2 separate regions of the Homo sapiens genome follow, and region 1 is linked to region 2. The links come from fine-mapping of genetic effects on gene expression. Tissue or cell type: whole blood. Region 2 holds a variant in brackets; the other region holds the start of a gene. All regions are shown on one strand. Distances are from middle to middle.

Region 1 (8,176 bases), 57 kb after region 2:
TTAAATAAGCTTTTTTATATTGATGTGCAGTGACAAGCAAAATTTTTGCTCTCCAATTTCTGAAAGTTATATGAAGTTTAAAACCCAGGGAAGAAAGCATGGCGTGAGTGCTCTAAGGATAGACCTACGGTATTCTAGAGCAAAAACCATTAAAGCTACTTCTACAGGAAATCGTTTTACACAGATATTGTATGTGGAATGAATACCATTAACTGCTCACCCCTTACTTTTTTTTTTTTAGCTTTTCTCTCATTTTTTTTTTGTTGTTATTTTTTTTAAAAAGATGTCACATATGAACTGGGGAACTTTAGCACCAAAATCAAGTCTCTCCTAGTCCATCTAGCTTCCCCTTCCTCCCCACTTAAAAAAAAGAAAAAATTAAATCACAAAGTCCCACTTAAGTCAAAATCTTCGTCCGCTTTTTCAGCCTTCCTTCCTGCAGACCTACACAAACCCAGGCAAGATTAGTCAACAGGGGTTCAGATCGGGAAGAAAAAGGTTTTGAATGTCAAGACAGGTTTCCCCCAAAACCCTGGTCTGGCAACAACTCTTCCAAGGGGCAGGGGTGGGGGGGGTGGGGGGGCGGGTACAGGTGGAGAGGTGCCACCGGGAAGAGGGGAGGAGGAATAAGTGTGCGGGAGACTGAAATGAGGGAAGGTGCAGTTGTGTCGCCAGTGGAGGGGGCTGCTGGTTCCGGGTCTCCACCCCGCCATGGGCAGAGGCTCCGGGAGGCCCACGGGTGCCCTCTGGCGCTGAAGAGGTAATGTAGTCACAGTGACAAAGTTAGATTACAAGGCACTAAGTTGCTTCTGTAAACTGTTACTGCTTTTTCTCTTGTGATTTGGCACTTAAGGCTTAAGCCGGAAAAAAAAAGGCATCTACTGACAAAATATGGGACTTGTCTGTTATGCATGGTAAGTGGGCTATAAAATCCAGGGAGGGGGTTTCAAGCCAGAAGAAGCTACTGACAAATTGACTTGTCCTTATGTTAGGTGGGGTTATGAGGGGGAGAGGGAGGGCACATTCTGAGGTGCTGGGGGAAAGGGGTTGAGCTTAACCTTGTTAATGTAGGGCCTGTGGGGAATGGGATGGGTAGGGAGAAGAGGGTATGGGATGTGGGTGCAGGGTAGGGGCTGGAGTAGGCAGGAGGTCCCTCCCTACCCTGGCTTAGTCATCTGAGATGGAAAGTCTGCTGAAGATGGGCAGGCGTCTTGAGTTGTCCAAGGTCGGGGAGTCTGAGCCACTGTGGCTGCTGCTGGAGCTGCTCAGGTAGCCCTCCTGGTCCGAGAGAGAATCCTGAGGGCTGGGGGGAGAGTCAAACATGTGAGGGGACTCGGACATGGGCCGGAAGAGGAAGGTGGTCGGGGAGCCACCCCCGGGCAGCCCCATGCTAGGGGCAAAGAGGCTTGCCAGCTCCTGGCTGGAGAAGGCAAAAGGGTTATTGGTGCCATCGGGCAGGGTAGGTGAGCCCAGGAGGTCATCGGCGCTCAGAATAGGGGGTGGGGTGATGGACGTGGGGCTGTCCAGCAGCCCGGTGGCAGCGGCGGTGGCAGCGGCACTGGGAAACCCAGCAAAGCTAAAGCTATGCTGGAGGCGGGGACGGTCAGCGGAGAGGTCCCGGGCCCCGGCCAGGGCACGGCGCTCTTCAGCGTTGTGGATGAAGTGGCAGCGGGGCCCGTAGGGGCAAAAGCCGATGGTGTGGAAGGTGCGGCACAGCTCCGTCTTGTACTTGGGGTGGCGGGTCAGGCTGCGGAGCTCGTGGATGCCGTGTGCGAACTGGCACTTGTCCCCGTACTTACAGGCACCGTTTTCCTCAAAGGGGCGGCACAGCTCCGTCTTGTAGCGGCTGGAGTTGACCTGGCCGCCCCCGGGCTGCTTCTGGGTGGGCAGCAGCCGCTCGCCCCCTTCCGAGAAGGAGCGGTCTCGGAAGCGGCTGTCTCGCGAGCTCAGAGCGGGGGCTGGCTCACCCTTGAGGCTGCTGAGGAGCTGGTTCTGGTGGAACTTGGAGCTGGGCAGGGTGACTGAGTGCCTCCGAGGGAAGCCCCCACCAGCAGGGGTGCCCACTGCCTTTCTGTCCAGCAGGCAACCCCCTGCACTGGGAGCACTATAGTTGAGCATCTTGTTACCCTGGAGAGAGAAGAGAAAGGATGGTAAGGACAGAGGACATCCACCAGGATGTCCACTATGGGCAGCCCCCTACACAATCACAAACGCCCGCTCTTTCTCAAAGAACTCATCTCTACCTCGGCTCTAGCAAGCTCCCTTCCCTCTCTCCCTCCCATAGGCCATTCACCTGGGTTTATTTTGGCCCCATGCGTAAGAAACCACAAGATCCAAACTGTGTGACAAGCACCCTGCTCCATGCTGACTCCTGCAATGCAACCCCCATGTCCTCTGTCCCCAAAGCTACCACTTTAAAGTTCAACTTTTTTACTAGTCAAATAGATTCTTCAACTCAAAATATCTCACACAACCCAGACCTCTCTAGATTACCGCACCCCGCCCCCGCCACCGCCCGCGACAAAAACAGGTAAACCTCAGAAAGGAGTCTATCATAGGCTACGTTAGGTCCCCTTCCAATCAGTCTCTGCTTAATTGATACCCCCTCCTTCAAGACCTGGCCTAAGACTCTCAACTTCCTCCTTCAGAAGTGTTCCCTTCCTTTGGCAACAGGTTTTCAGACTGCCTTTGCTTTTTCTTGTGGGGAGGAGATTGGGGGCCTGGTCTGAGGTTGGGGGAGACAGGGATGTGATTCCTGAAAATAAAACTCTTTGCCCTAAGTTCCCGGAAGAGATATTTTCTACAATAATCTCTCTCACCATTTCCACTCAGCCCTAGCCCACCCCGCCCCCTTCACTGAGAAGATGCCTTTGCAATTAGTCTTTTGGCTGCAAGAGCAAGCTTGGATAAGAGCTCCAGTGTTTAATCTTTAACGCAAAGCTGCAGATGGAAAGGAAAAGGAAAGCACCAACCCCCCTACCCACCTCCTAGTCAATAGCGGATTGGGGGTGGTGGGGATGGGGGCAGAGCCACCAATGGCAGGTTTCTGTTCCAATAGGACCCTGGTCACCTGCCCAAATTGTACCCAAGATTTGGAAATGGTGCAGGTCAGGGACCTAGGAGTTAGTTCCCAGCCCATGTGGGTGTCATTGTGCAAATTCTAATGTTGGTCCCTTAGGATCAGCAGGGGGGGACCGGGAATCTGTAACTGCAACCACCCCACCGAGAGGATTACAGGAACCCAGTCGAGAGCTGGTTCCCAACAATGAGGTTCATTTAAAAAGTCGTGAGGGGGGAGGGGGGCCAAAGAAAGAAATAGATCAAAGAGCGGGAGAGTCGAGAAAAGAAGGAAGAAATGTTGGGGAGCGCTGGCAGCCGGGCTGGCAAGTGGAGTTTGGGAATGTGCAGGGAGGGAAGGAAGCTGAAAAATTCAAACTTTTTAAATGCTACTCTTCAGCTCCTCGGCGTCCCTGCACCCCAACCCTGCAGCCCTGGGGCGTTGGCAGCTGCACCAACAGGAGCAGCAAGCTGGGAAAACAGAGCAACATGACCCGACGTGTTAAGAGAAGGCAAAACACTTCAGCAATTAAAAAGTAGCCCAGCAGCTTCACCCTTTCAAATTGGGAGGGGGAGGTTGGAAAGAAATTTAACAACATCCATAGACTTTTGCTATGTACATTTAAACCGCAGTCCTGGAACATTCCGAGTTTAAAACTTGCTTTTTCAACACTGGCTGACAAGCAACATGTTTTAAGGAGCCCCCCATTAAATCCTTACTCGCGGGACTCTCGAGTTCAAGCCAGCATTTTGTCGCCACCTCCCCCCCCAACCCCGCCCGCAATCGATGAGCCGCAATGCCTCGGCAACACAGGTAAGCGGGTCAACCTGAATGCCTCTTTCACCCCAAAGTTTGCTGCACGATCGGCTATCGCGGGAAGAAGCCCAACGGAGCTAGGGCGGACTCAAGCCCCACTGCAAACTTGTTCTGCAACATCTTTTTGAATCACAACTTGGCCTTTCTTCCTCGCATATCCCCAGCTCCCCCCAAAGAGTGGAGGAAAACATTGTCCCGAGACTCACTTCCCCGAGGGACCTCCCACTCCCAACCCCACGGGTGGGTAATGCCGCTGGACAGACCTAGGGCGCAGACTGGGAACCCGATCAGACCAGCAAACCTGGGATCCAGCAGCACGTTACGTAAAACAGGATCGCCCAAAACTTGTCCCAATCCCAGCCCTCCCCCCGAAGCCCCCGGGCTGCCCTGCCAGGCAAACTTCGCCCCTCAAAACCCTGGCCTCCAGATTCACATGTAATCCCCGCCAGCAACTGTTGAAACTCAAAGGGTGGGAAGGACGGGGCCAAATTCCTTCAAACTTGGGAGAAATGCCGGAGGAGAAAAGAATCATCTCGCTGCACCACTTTCCCCATTGCCTTCCAAGACCCAAACTTTTGGGGGTTCTTTCTTAAGGCAAAAGAAAAAGACTTTTTGAAAAGCAAATGCTCCGCCCCCCTTTACCTTGCATAAAACTTCGCTCAAGTCGAAGATGGTGGCAGACACGAGGGTGGTGGTCATCCTGTGCGTTCGCGCGAGCCAGGGGCGAGGATCTGGTGTGTCGCGAAGGTCCCGGTGCGGGGAAGGCGCAGCCTCTCCTGTCTGGAGTCCCACACGCCAGTTCCCGGCGCCCCTCGCCTTTCTGACTCCGGGCTGGGGCGCGCAAAGCCCAATTTATAAAGTTCAGATTTGGTGGGCCGGGGGGAGGAGGAGCTTTAAACTTATTTAAATGAGGAAGAGGAGGAAAAAGAAGTTGATTGACACTGGAGTTGAATCAGCCATGCGGTCAGGCGGGGAGGGGGGGCAGGGGGAGGAGAAGAAACTTTCAAAAGGAAGAAGGGGGAGGGGAGACGAGAAAAGAAGGCGGAAAAAAAAAACCCCACTGTGAGCCGCGCACAACTTTTTTTTTTTTTTCTTTAAGAGGAAAAGTTTCAAGTCGGCTGACTTCCCTACCCGGCGCTTCAGGCGCCCCCTCTCCGGGGCCGCGCGGGCGCAGAGCGGGAGGGGCGCGCCCCCTCCTTTGTCAGCCTCAGAGCGCGGCTGTGACGTCACTCATTCCACTCCCTCCGGGGTTCTTGTTGTCATGTTGTTGTTTTTTGTTGGGCAGGAAGGCGGGCTCGACTTTCTCTTTTTGCCAGCGGGAGCTGAAGCCCGTCCTTAGCGCCCGGGCCGCGGTTTCCATCTTGAGCTGGCGGTCTCCTTGAAACTTCCCCAAGTGTCTGCACAACTTACCTTTTCCCGACTTCTCTTCGACACTCGGCTCCCTTCGGCAAACCGGGCAGGCCGAGGACATTAGAAATTTGGGACGCACAGAATGTTCAAGCCTAGGATTTTATGTTGCTGTTTTTTTTCCAGCGGGGCGTAGGGTGGGGCGCGCTGCTGGGGGGACTAGGGAAACTTTTTCCCCAGGAGGACATGGTCTGGCGGGGGCGAGCGCGGCACAATTTAGTGCGCCGCACGCGTCGACACTCGCGCTCGCTTTGCAGCCGGCGCTCTCCGGGTGTGGGCGGGTGGGGGGCGCCGCAAAAAAAGACCACAACCCGGGACGATTGTTTGTTTTACCAGGCCTAGGCGTGCCGTTTCTTTTCACGCATCCAATCTTTAAACTTTTTAGTCAAGAAAACCCTAATCCTTCCTGAATGCCCCTTCCTCCCAGAAAAAGCCCACCGAGCAACTCACTACTTTCCACGCGCGCTCCGAATTCTGGGCGGCGCCACAACCCTCCCTCCTCCTCCATCCTCCCCACACACACCTCAAGACTCTAGAACAATGAAAAAAGGTTACTTTGGTAAGAATGAAGGTAAAGAGGTGGAGGGAGGCGGCACTTTTAACTTATTGTTGCTTCTCTCTCGCCCCCACCGGAGTGGAACATATGGCTTGTCACGCTGCGCCGTTTTGGCGGGAGGTGGAGAGGGGGACATGGGAGCCACGAAACCGAAGGGCCCGCAATGGAGCATGACTCCCTTGAAAATGATAAAATATATACTGTTAGGTTTGGATGCCGCCCACCCAAATAAAAAGTTAACGAGTCCCCCACCCGCCCCCTGCGCCTTGGCCCGACTGCTGGCGTGATGACCCAGGCGGAAGTCGCAGGGCTGCGCTTCTTTCCGATTTCCACGCGGGCTCCGCCGCCCCCCTCGGCCCTCGCACGTTTCTTCCCAGCACTCGAGGCCGCCGAGTCTGTTATGAAACCCGGTGCTGCGGAGTGGCTAAGATTGAGTTCCATTGCGATGTAATTAGGTCACCCCATTATGAGCACGTTTCTTTGGAAAGGACGGGGCGGGCCGAAGAGAGCGCATTCTCACCACCCCCAACACACACTTTTTTTTAAAACTGCATTTCTTATTTATTCGTAAACATCTGGGCAAACCCAGCGAAACCTTCCAAATCACAATTGTTTGAGAAACCGGCTGTTTTTCAACTTTGTGAAACCCAACTTTTGCTGCAGCCACGAACCTACGTGATCCCAGCGGGGTCGGCTTTCATTTGTCTCCTCTGCCCGAAATGGATGGCCCCCACTTTAACTCGGCTGCTGCCCCTCGCTTGTTCTGCTGCTGCCCTCCAGCCGTCTGTTGCTTCCCTCCCCCGCTCCCATTTTTCAGCTTTTCTTGAAATCTGGCAAGCGCCAGAAAGGGAAATAACTTCCATCCACCTTAATTTAAATCATTCAAGTGTAGGTTTCTTTCTTAGAGGGATGTTTGCTCGTTCCTTTCCCAAGTGGGTGTTGGGGCGGTGGGGGAGAGATTTCGTGCAGTTTCTTGGTGATGAGGTAATGAGTTCCAGATTTCAGGACAGAGCAGAGTGCGCGTTGAAACCACAAGGTTAGTCTGAGTTCTGATGTGAAGCTATTTCGGTTTTTTATTCCCCCGGCCTCCACCCATTCCCGCTCCCCCACCCCCCACCCCCCCCAAAAAAGAGGCCGGCTGGTCTTTAACTCCCGAGGGTTCGCGAAGCTCAGCTGGGGGGACCGGAGGAGGGGCTGGAAAAAAGCAAAGGGGAAGGGGACTGGGAGCGGGCGGGGCCCCCTTCCCGGCCCAGGGCCTGTCCCCGCGGGGCACCGGCTATGCCCCTGCTTCGGGCGGCGCCGCTTTCCCTCCAAGGCTGCGGGACCGGCCAGGAGCACCATCAGGCGCCCCAGAATGGCTACAAAGTGGATTTTTCCAAAGAAAGCTGATTCCTCGAATTTCCTCGGCTTTTCCAACTCCCGGAGGCCCTCCCCTCCCCCTCTCCCCGGGGGCGCGGGCTCCGCAAGGCTGCGACTGGCCTAGCCCGCTCGCTCCCGAGTTGTTTACCGGCCCCGCCGACCAAGGGTTTGTTCCAGCTCCCAGAGCCTGTCTCTATAATTAAACTCTTTTTTAAATTGTCGGGTTGAAACGTCATTTCGGGGACTTTCCAAGGGTGAGGGAGCCGAGAGGAGGGAGCGAGTCCCTTAACCCTTCGCTGACCCGGCGTCCCCGCCGCGGTGAGGGCCCGAGGGCGGGAGCCGACCCGCCCTCGCCCAGACGTGGTCGACAGGTGCCCAGGGGTGGCGGGAGGGCGGCCCTACGGTGCAGGAAGGCCGAGGCGAGGCGTGCGTGGCCGTCCCCCGCCAACTTCGCGGTGCATTCCGCCCTCCCGCTCCTTACCCGCGCAGTCCCCAGGCTGGCCGCCGCCTCACCTGCACTGCCGCTTCCGACCGGGAGGCGGTGGGCCGGCTCCTCTGTCCCAGGCCCGACTTCCGGGCCCTCCCCATTCGCCTGGAGCGCGTCCCTTCGTGGGGAGGGGCGGCCCAGGTATTTTAGCTTGGAGGTGGTGGTGGGGTGGGATGTTCGGTTTTGTGCAAGGGGGAAAGTGAAAGTCTTCGGAGTGAAGGAGGCGCTGCGGGTGTACGTATTCATCGGCCAATCTGGACCCCAGGCGCACCTCAAGGCAGATGACAGTGTGCAGCACTGGGCCGCAGGACCCCAGAAGGTTAGGCCTAGTCACAGGCGTCAGCAGGGTACCCCCTCCTGAGAGCCCTGCAGTGTTGCACTTCCTCTCAGGCTTCAGGTCATTTGCAAAATCCCCCAAATTCTTCAGGTTGAAAGAGAGAGAGACACCTGGAGTCCCCTTGTTTAAAGTTTGGAATGCTGATTCCCTGGCCCA
Region 2 (8,176 bases):
CCTTTGGAAGCCCAAGCCCTCCCTTTTTCCCAAAGGGGGAGGGGTGGGCTGCACCCCCCGTTGCCTTTTCACCCAAACCCAGCTGGGTGGGACCGAGCCCTTGGGCTCTCAGGAGCTCCCTGGCTGTGGGCTGGGGAGATCAGTGCTCCCCAGGCCCTCCTCTGGCCCTGGCCCTTTCCAGAGGACAATAGCCTTCATGCAAGGGAAAATTCCATCGCCCAGGGTTCAAGTCTCCAAGGAGTTGCTGGGGCCTCTATTTAGCCTGGAGTGGGCTCTGAGGAGCCGCTGCAGCTGCCCGGCTTGTTTTCCCCCTCGCTGTGTTTTATTTTTAACCCCTGAGCTGCCAAGGATTGTTTTTCCCCAACCAGTGCCTGGGAACTAAGGGAGGGAAGAAATAAGGCTTTGTTCCCTTTGGGGAACTAATTGGGAAAGACAGGCAGTGTGGCCAGCTTGGCTCTATTAGGGTGTGGGGCTCCCACCCCTCACTGCACAACATCTTCACCCCAATCCATACCCAGGAGGCTGGGAGTGCAGAAGTGCCCCCCAGGATGCAACCAGAGGCCCGGGGGCTGGTGGGAACGCAAGTGCAGCTTCAAGACTGCAAAGGCAGCTCAGAGCCACTTTCTTGGGCTCCGAAGATATTCAGGAAATAAGATGTTGGGAGCTGGAAATGTCTATTTTTCCCATTTCAACCCCCCCCAAACTAACCCCTGCTTTTCTCCTGCTGGTGGTGGTGGTTGTTGTTTTCCAGACCTGCATAATGAACTCTAGAAGAAAAGTGAGGGAACTCAAAAAAGTAAGAAACCAGAAAATAAAGACATTATACTTTTAAACACTAGGCTAATCAATGGGAAACACCCAGCAACCCCACTTATAAGTTTACTCCGTAAAAAATATTCCTTATACTCAGAAATTTAATTTCATTGCAAATCAGCTAGGAATTAATGAAAAATTTCTTCCACGGCCATTTTATTTTAAGATCAAATGGATTCCAGATAGGGACCCATTAAGAATCTAAGGACCATTTTGATCCCGTCTAGGAACAGAGCAAATTTCTAAGGAATCACCCACTTGCAGCAAGCCAGCACATTCAAGTTAGGGCTGTGGCATATGACACCCAGTGCGTTCAAGTAAAGACTGCTCGTCTATTTACCAAGAATATTTGAGAAAAGAAAATGCCCCTGCCTGGTGGACAATAGCACAAAGCATTTCTCTGTACCTGGGCACATTTGTTCCACTCGATAAAAGAGGACCCCTGACCCAGGTACACAGGCAGTTGGAGAAGAGGACAACGATGAACTGATACAAAGGTAAGAGGTTCCCGGTAGCATTGGAAGAACACAGATTGGTGCATAATGCATGGCATGTGCAATAAAAGTAAGTTGCATTAAAACTTCAGCCTTGTTAATGACTACAAAAAAAATTGTTAGAAAGAATGAATAAGATCTTGGCCAGGCACAGTGGCTCACGCCTGTAATCCCAGCATTTTGGGGGGCCGAGGCAGGCGGATCACCTGAGGTCAGGAGTTTGAGACCAGCCTGGCCAACATGGTGAAACCCCATCTCTACTAAATATACAAAAAAATTAGCCAGGCATGATGGTGCACGCCTGTAATTCCAGCTACTTGGGAGGCTGAGGCAGGAGAATCTCCTGAACCCGGGAGGCGGAGGTTGCAGTGAGCCAAGATCAAACCACTGCACTCCAGCCTGGGAGACAAGAGCGAAAAGAATGAATAAGATCTGATATTTGATAGCACAACAAGGTGACTATAGTCAATAATGATTGAATTGTACATTTAAAAATAACGAAAAGAGTATAATTGGATTGTCTGTAACACAAAGGATAAAAGCTTTAAGTGATGGATACCCCATTTACCCTGATGCAATTACTACACATTGTATGCGTGTATCAAAATATCTCTCATGCCCCATAAATACACACACCTACTATGTCCCGACAAAAATTTAAAATTTTTTTTAATTTTTAAAAATTTGTTGAAAAACCATCAGCCCTGTTAAGTTGCTCACACGTGCTGTTGCAGCCCCAGCTCACCCGGTAGTAAATCCTGCTGACACAGGGTCCCCCACAGCTATGGGTCTATCCTTCCTCTGGTGTGGCAAGACTACATTTTCAGGAAGCTGCTGGGCAGAATGAAGCAACTCAAAGCTCAGGAGAAGTGTCTACGTGCCTTTTAGGGTTGGGGTTTAACCCAGCACTCAGGGATTTCCCAGCATGCAGACAAAGGCACTGACAGTTACAGCAGAAGCTGGAAGGGTGAGTCAAGCCAGGACTCAGCACGCTTGAACCCATCCACAGCTCCCACTCACATCATCCCACACTCCCTTTTCACATTTACTCCAAGCATCTGGAGCCCCAAGCTCCTGTGCCTCAACCCATGCCCTCAGTAACAGTATCCATTGCCAAGCCAGAATTGACTCCGGGCCCACCTTGCCACTCACTCAGAGTCTGTGAGGAGTGGGCACCGCACGCAGCCGTGAAACAGGCCAACTCACAGGTGGGCTCCCCACTGCACGTCTTGTCCGAAAAGACACCCCTCAGCCCCATCAGTGTTGACTTTGCATTGCGCCATTAGATTATTTCTTTCAGCTCTTCTTAAGACAAATGGCTGGCTGTTGGGAGGCTGGCCAGGGTTAAGGTGGAGCCTCAATGTGGCCATTTTCACAGCCCCGGCAAAGCCTGTGGTTGATGCCAAACCCCCATTGAACTGAATAGAATGGAGGAAAGCTAACCAACCCACCAGAATAATAATCACTAATGCTATGGAGTGATCACACAGCAAGACTGTTCTAAGTGTTTTATGTGTATTCATTTATTTTTACCTCATCATAAGTACTATTATTTTTCTATTTTATAGATGAGAAAACTGAAACAAGGTCACAAACCAGATGATCTAAAGGGTAGCCACTACTGCCTCCTAAAGAACCCCAATCAGGAATCCCAGATTAATTTGCCCAGCATCCTGTTTGGAAACCACATGTCCACCCTGCAACTGTACCTGGCTTGTGTCCCACAAGGAGGAAGATGCAGGGGACTCCGGAAGCTAAGGAGGTAGACATGGGGTTTACTTGGGTTAATGTGGCCGGGGAGTCAGGAGACCTTGATTCCCATTCTGGCTCTGCCCCTATCCGCATGAGGATGGCCAACTGTTCCAACCATGGGTTCCACTCTCCTCATTGCTCAGCCACCAGGTTTCCAGGTCCCTCAGGCCCCTGCACATCCTCAGATATCTGAAGAACAGTGATCGGTGTGACGACAGGGCCCCTTCACAGAACGAACTTGACAAAGAACCACTCACCGCACACACGAGCCTTAGAATGCACGTGTCAGTGTTTTGGGAAATATGTGCTGTTTTGAAATGTGTCTGGGCCATGAGCAAGTTTG[G/T]GGGGAGACAGGATAGGAGCTTTTCTTCCAGTTAATGAAGTGAGGCTTCATGGAGGAAGAAGATTTTCTTAGTCACATTTCCTGTTTCACACTGACCTTTTAAAAGGAAACCCACAAGTGAACCTGTGCTAGGGCCTGCTTGCAAAATCTACCCACAGGTATAATAAAGATGATCTAAATAAAGCCCACAGTAGGCCAAGCTTAACCTGAATCAGTGGAAATAATAAGATCACTAAGAAGGGCTGATGGCCTGAGATAAGAGACATGGTGGTGCTCCGTATACTGTAAATAGAAGTGACACGTGAGAGATTTAATGATTATTAAACAGGAATCTAAGCAGAGAGGCAGAGATAAACCATGCAATCTTTTCATCAGTCTCTAGGTACTCAGGGCTTAGCCACTCATTATAAAATGGAGACTCTAAAAAATTAGGAGAGATGGATGCAGTGATTTCAAAAGAAGTTGTGTTGATTGGGTTATAAAATTAATTATGGGAATTAAGATTACTTATCTGCAGAGGAAAAGACCAAGAGATAACTGAAGAACTTAAAGTTGGTAAGGGGCCGGGCTCGGTGGCTCATGCCTATAATCCCAACACCTCAGGAGCCTGAGACGAGAGGACTGCTTGAGCCCAGTTGTTCAAGGCTAGCCTGGGCAACACAGTGACACCCCGCATTTACAAAAATATTTTTTTTGTCCTCAGATTTGGTAGTGTGTGTTTCTAGTCCCAGCTACTAGGGTGGCTAAGACAGGAGGACCGCTTGAGCCTGGGAGGTTGAGGCTGCAATGTGCTGTGATCACACCACTGCACTCCAGTCTGGGTGACGGAGCAAAAGTCCATCTCAGAAAAAAACCAAAAAGTTGGTAAGGAATCAATTATTGGATGACACATTGCCATATCTACTGAGCACAGAATGACAGGCCCAAACAACAGCAGACAGATATGGGATGCTCAAGGATGTCCCAGAGATGGCCAGGTATGGTGGCTCACGCCTGTAATCCCAGCACTTTGGGAGGCCAAGGCAGGCAGATCACTTGAGGTCAGGAGTTCGAGATCAGCCTGGCCAACATGGTGAAATCCTGTCTCTACTAAAAATACAAAAACTAGCTGGGTATGGTGGCGCATGCCTGTAGTCCTAGCTACTCTGGAGGCTGAAGCAGGAGAATCACTTGAACCCGGGAGGCAGAGGTTCCAGTGAGCTGAGATCACACCACTGCACTCCATCCTGGGCAACTGAGCGAGACTCCAACTCAAAAAAAAAAAGAAAAAAAAAAGAATGTCCCAGAGATACCTGCAGAACGGTTGCTAAGGCCACCCAAGTCCAGGGGAGCTTCACCATCAGGCAGCACCCATCGCCATGGCTGTTTACATTAACTCAGGGAAGACGCCACAGAAATGTTAAGTTTTGAAAGCTTTGTTTTGTTTTGTTTTATTACTTTTTCATTTTAAAAAATATGGAATGCTTCACAAATTTGCGTGTCATCCTTGCTCAGGGGCCATGCTAATCTTCTCTGTACTGTTCCAATTTTAGTACATGCACTGCCAAAGCGAGCACTGTTTTGTTTTGTTTTAAACAAGGAGGCCTGGAATTGGGCTGAAGTTAAAAAAAAAATCATACAAAGGAAACGGTAATTATGTTAACAAAAATAGAGTGGGGAATAGGGTTAGGCCATGACAGGCAATGATCCTAAGAGCTAGAGATCTCTCCCACCCCAACAGAGAGAGACAGAGAGACAGACAGAGAGAGAGAGAGGGAGACAGAGACAGAGAGAGAGACACACACAGAGAGAGAGAGACACACACGCACACACACAGAGAGAGAGAGACACACACACACACACACACAGAGAGACACAGAGAGAGAGAGAGACAGAGACAGAGACAGAGAGAGAGAACCCTAAGGTATTAATATTCCTGACTTGAATACCTCAGGCTTTTCCCAGCCAACTTCCACGTTGCTCTCCTATCCGTCTCCACACCTAATTCTTCTACCAAACCCTTCTGTCCACCCCAGGAGATTGTGAACTCAGGCACCAAATCCAACAAGCTCCCCGAGGAACTTACAACAGTCTGTTTTACAGAGAAGTAAATGTTGCTGAGAGAGAAAATTGTCAGGCCTCGGTGTTCCAGAGCAAGAGGCATTCCTTCATTCCCAGAGAGGCCCTGGGCCTCAGCAAGCAAGCCCGACAAGCCCTCCGCAGCCAGAATCCAAGCTTCAGGCTGCACCTCCCTCACCGCTGGGCCCTGGACAGTGAGGCTGCTGCTCAGAACCCCTCTCCTCAGAGGGAAATTCCTCAGGGCTGCCCCACCCGACCCGTTCTATCAGTCACTCAAGCCCTCTATCCTCTGTCACAGCCTGGCTCTGTCCCTTCCCATGCCCCAACCCCCAACCTCCCAGGACCCAGTATCTCAGGATTTCTGCCCTCCTCCAGCCCCGAGCAGCCTGGAAGCCAAGTGGCAAGGATGTAGTCAGCCGGGTGGGCCCTGAGAGCCGGTGGAATGGTGTCCATGTTGCAGGAAACAAGGGAAGGTGAGGGGTACAGGGGTGCCTGTGCCAGGCCACCACTCCACAGCTCATTCTTCTCTGAGGTTATTCCCCGACCCATACCCCTCTGGAGCCCACCCCAGCTGCTTCCTCTTCCTAGGGGTCTCCACCTGATGTTCTGTGACTCCCCTGAAAATAAACTTTTGAAAGGCAGACTGTGTGGTTATTGTGAACATGGGTGTAAGGTCAAGAGGCAACCCCATAGCCAGATTTCATCCTCCTCCAGGCCTCCATCCAGGGCTGCAGAAATAGCTAGCAATTGGCTGGCTAAGCAGGCAGTGGCTTATATGGAAAGAGGGGCCCCTCTGCAGCTGTCACCTGTGCTTGTGAATTTGTTTTTCCAGCGTCAGGAAGGAAAGGTGATTTGGGAGACACCAAGCAAAGAGCAGGAGGACCTTTTCTGTCCCCTGAAATTTAGGAGGGAGATTACCAGACAGAGGCTGAGCCTTCCAGCTCCACTGGGGCCTGATGCCCTCTCTCACCTCTGACTGCCACCCTGGGAGGCTCTTTAAGCCTCTGTGCACGGCTCCCCTGCCCAGAGGGGAGGGCGCATGCGTGTCATGAACACCCAGGTGCTGGAGTCCACAGGACAGGTAGAAGAGAAACGACTGTGGCCACTCAGCAACCGCTTATGCCAGATACCCTTTTAATAAAATCACCTTCATCCAATCCTCACAGTCATCTCCTGAAATAGGTACTATTCCCATTTTGTAGACAAGGAAACTGAGACTCCAAGAGGTGAAAGTGCTTATGCAGATCATACTTATTAGGGACGGAGGCAGGACACAGTCCCACAAACACAGGGGGCAGCTGCCAAGGGGCCTCTTTTTCCATATAAGCCACCGCCTTCTTACCCAGCCAATCTCTAGCTATTTCTGCAGCCCCAGGATTGAGGTCTGAAGAAGGATTGAGTCTACTATGGTGTCACTTTCTGGCAAACTCTGAGAGGGACTGAGAAGGCCAAGTGGGGGCCTGCACCAGGCACCCCCAGCACCCAGGGCGCCCCTCCTCCCACTGAGCCACTCAGAGGCCGGGTCCTGGCAGGGTCCTCTCGCTTCACAGACCCTGCACTCCAGGCCAGACCCTGCATAAAAAGAGGTGTCCACAGTGCTCATATCCCACCAGGCTCAGACGTGGTAGCCCCAGGAAGTCACATCCATCTGGGATCTTCCCACCCCAGCCTTTTCAGGAATTTATTGTTATGGGGACATACAACAATATTAACCATGAGCACTGCTAGGGTCACTGTTCACAAGCAGGCAGGAGGACCCCCAGTGCAAGGTCTTTCTGTGGGGCCACCTGGCATGCTGCATGCCCAGCACTGTAGGTGGACTGGATGGTGGGGAAGGCCCCGTTGGAACCTCAACAGAATGAACTTCTGGGAAACTCAGCCACTCTGGTCCTGGTGTTCTTGGGTTGTATGTTTCAAAGCTGTCTTGACTTAACTAGTTCTGTCTCATTTTAGGATCTTCCAAAAGAATTCATGAACCAAGGTGCTAAAGAGCCAGATCCATTCGGCTCCTGAGCTCTGGAGGGATAGGATGCAGGGTAAATGGACCGAGGGTCCCAGCACCTTTTACCAGCTTTCCTAGCCTGGCCCTTGAGACCCTGTTTGACAGGTTCCTGTCCACTGACCAGCCCATCTCAAGTCACCCTGCTTCTCCCTCTGTGCCCCACCTTCAGTGCCTCCAATCCCTCTGTACCCTACCTTCAGCGCCTCCAATCCCTCTGTGCCCTACCTTCAGTGCTTCCAATCCCTCTGTGCCCTGCCTTCAGCGCCTCCAATCCCTCTGTGCCCTACCTTCAGTGCCTCCAAGCTCCATCTCAACCACCCTGTGCCCTCTTGCCTGGGGATCAACCCCTCCTTTCTCCAGAGAACCCCTACTTCACCTAGCACGTTTCCATGTGAATTTCAAAGGCTAAGTGCAAGGATTAGGTTCCTCTGAACTGGTTGAGATCTTTCAGGCTTCCTGTCCATCCCCCAGTGTCATGCCTATTTATCTCAATTTATGACACCCACACTTTCCCAATAATCCTGTTGCCTTTCTTGGTGCTTTTGTTGCTCCCTATAAATTGTCATTAAAGAGGTTGGATAGGAATGAGCCTGCAGCCCACTACTAGAGACTTCTCTCCTGGTCAACATCTACATGCTAATGACAGAAGGATTAGGTGGTTTTCTAATTATTGATTACTATGGAACAAATGACTTCAAACATGCTGATGAAAAA

What was found. PIP is the estimated chance that this variant, and not a neighbour inherited with it, causes the effect.
Region 1: ZFP36L1 starts here. The variant in region 2 is fine-mapped to the expression of ZFP36L1 in whole blood (TOPMed, PIP above 0.99).

Annotation. Positions count from the first base shown.
Region 1 is chr14:68,788,366-68,796,541 of GRCh38, forward strand. ZFP36L1 (ZFP36 ring finger protein like 1) reads right to left here and starts at 4,702. Exons shown (of 2, transcript NM_004926.4): 1 at 4,517-4,702; 2 at 1-2,127. The coding sequence starts at 4,573. The coding sequence ends at 1,168. RefSeq lists enhancers at 1,363-1,422, 1,433-1,512, 1,620-2,235, 6,323-6,867, 6,530-6,689 and 1 more and silencers at 4,860-4,929, 4,950-5,149, 7,430-7,749.
Region 2 is chr14:68,731,071-68,739,246 of GRCh38, forward strand. LOC105370547 (a long non-coding RNA gene) reads left to right here. Exons shown (of 4, transcript XR_007064227.1): 2 at 1-1,310; 3 at 2,876-3,069; 4 at 5,418-6,101. It also overlaps the pseudogene RNU6-921P. Among named protein-coding and RNA genes, the nearest start is that of RAD51B-AS1, 50 kb to the left of the region's middle. RefSeq lists enhancers at 1-219, 5,225-5,751, 5,752-6,276. The variant G/T (reference allele first, on the strand shown) is at 3,403.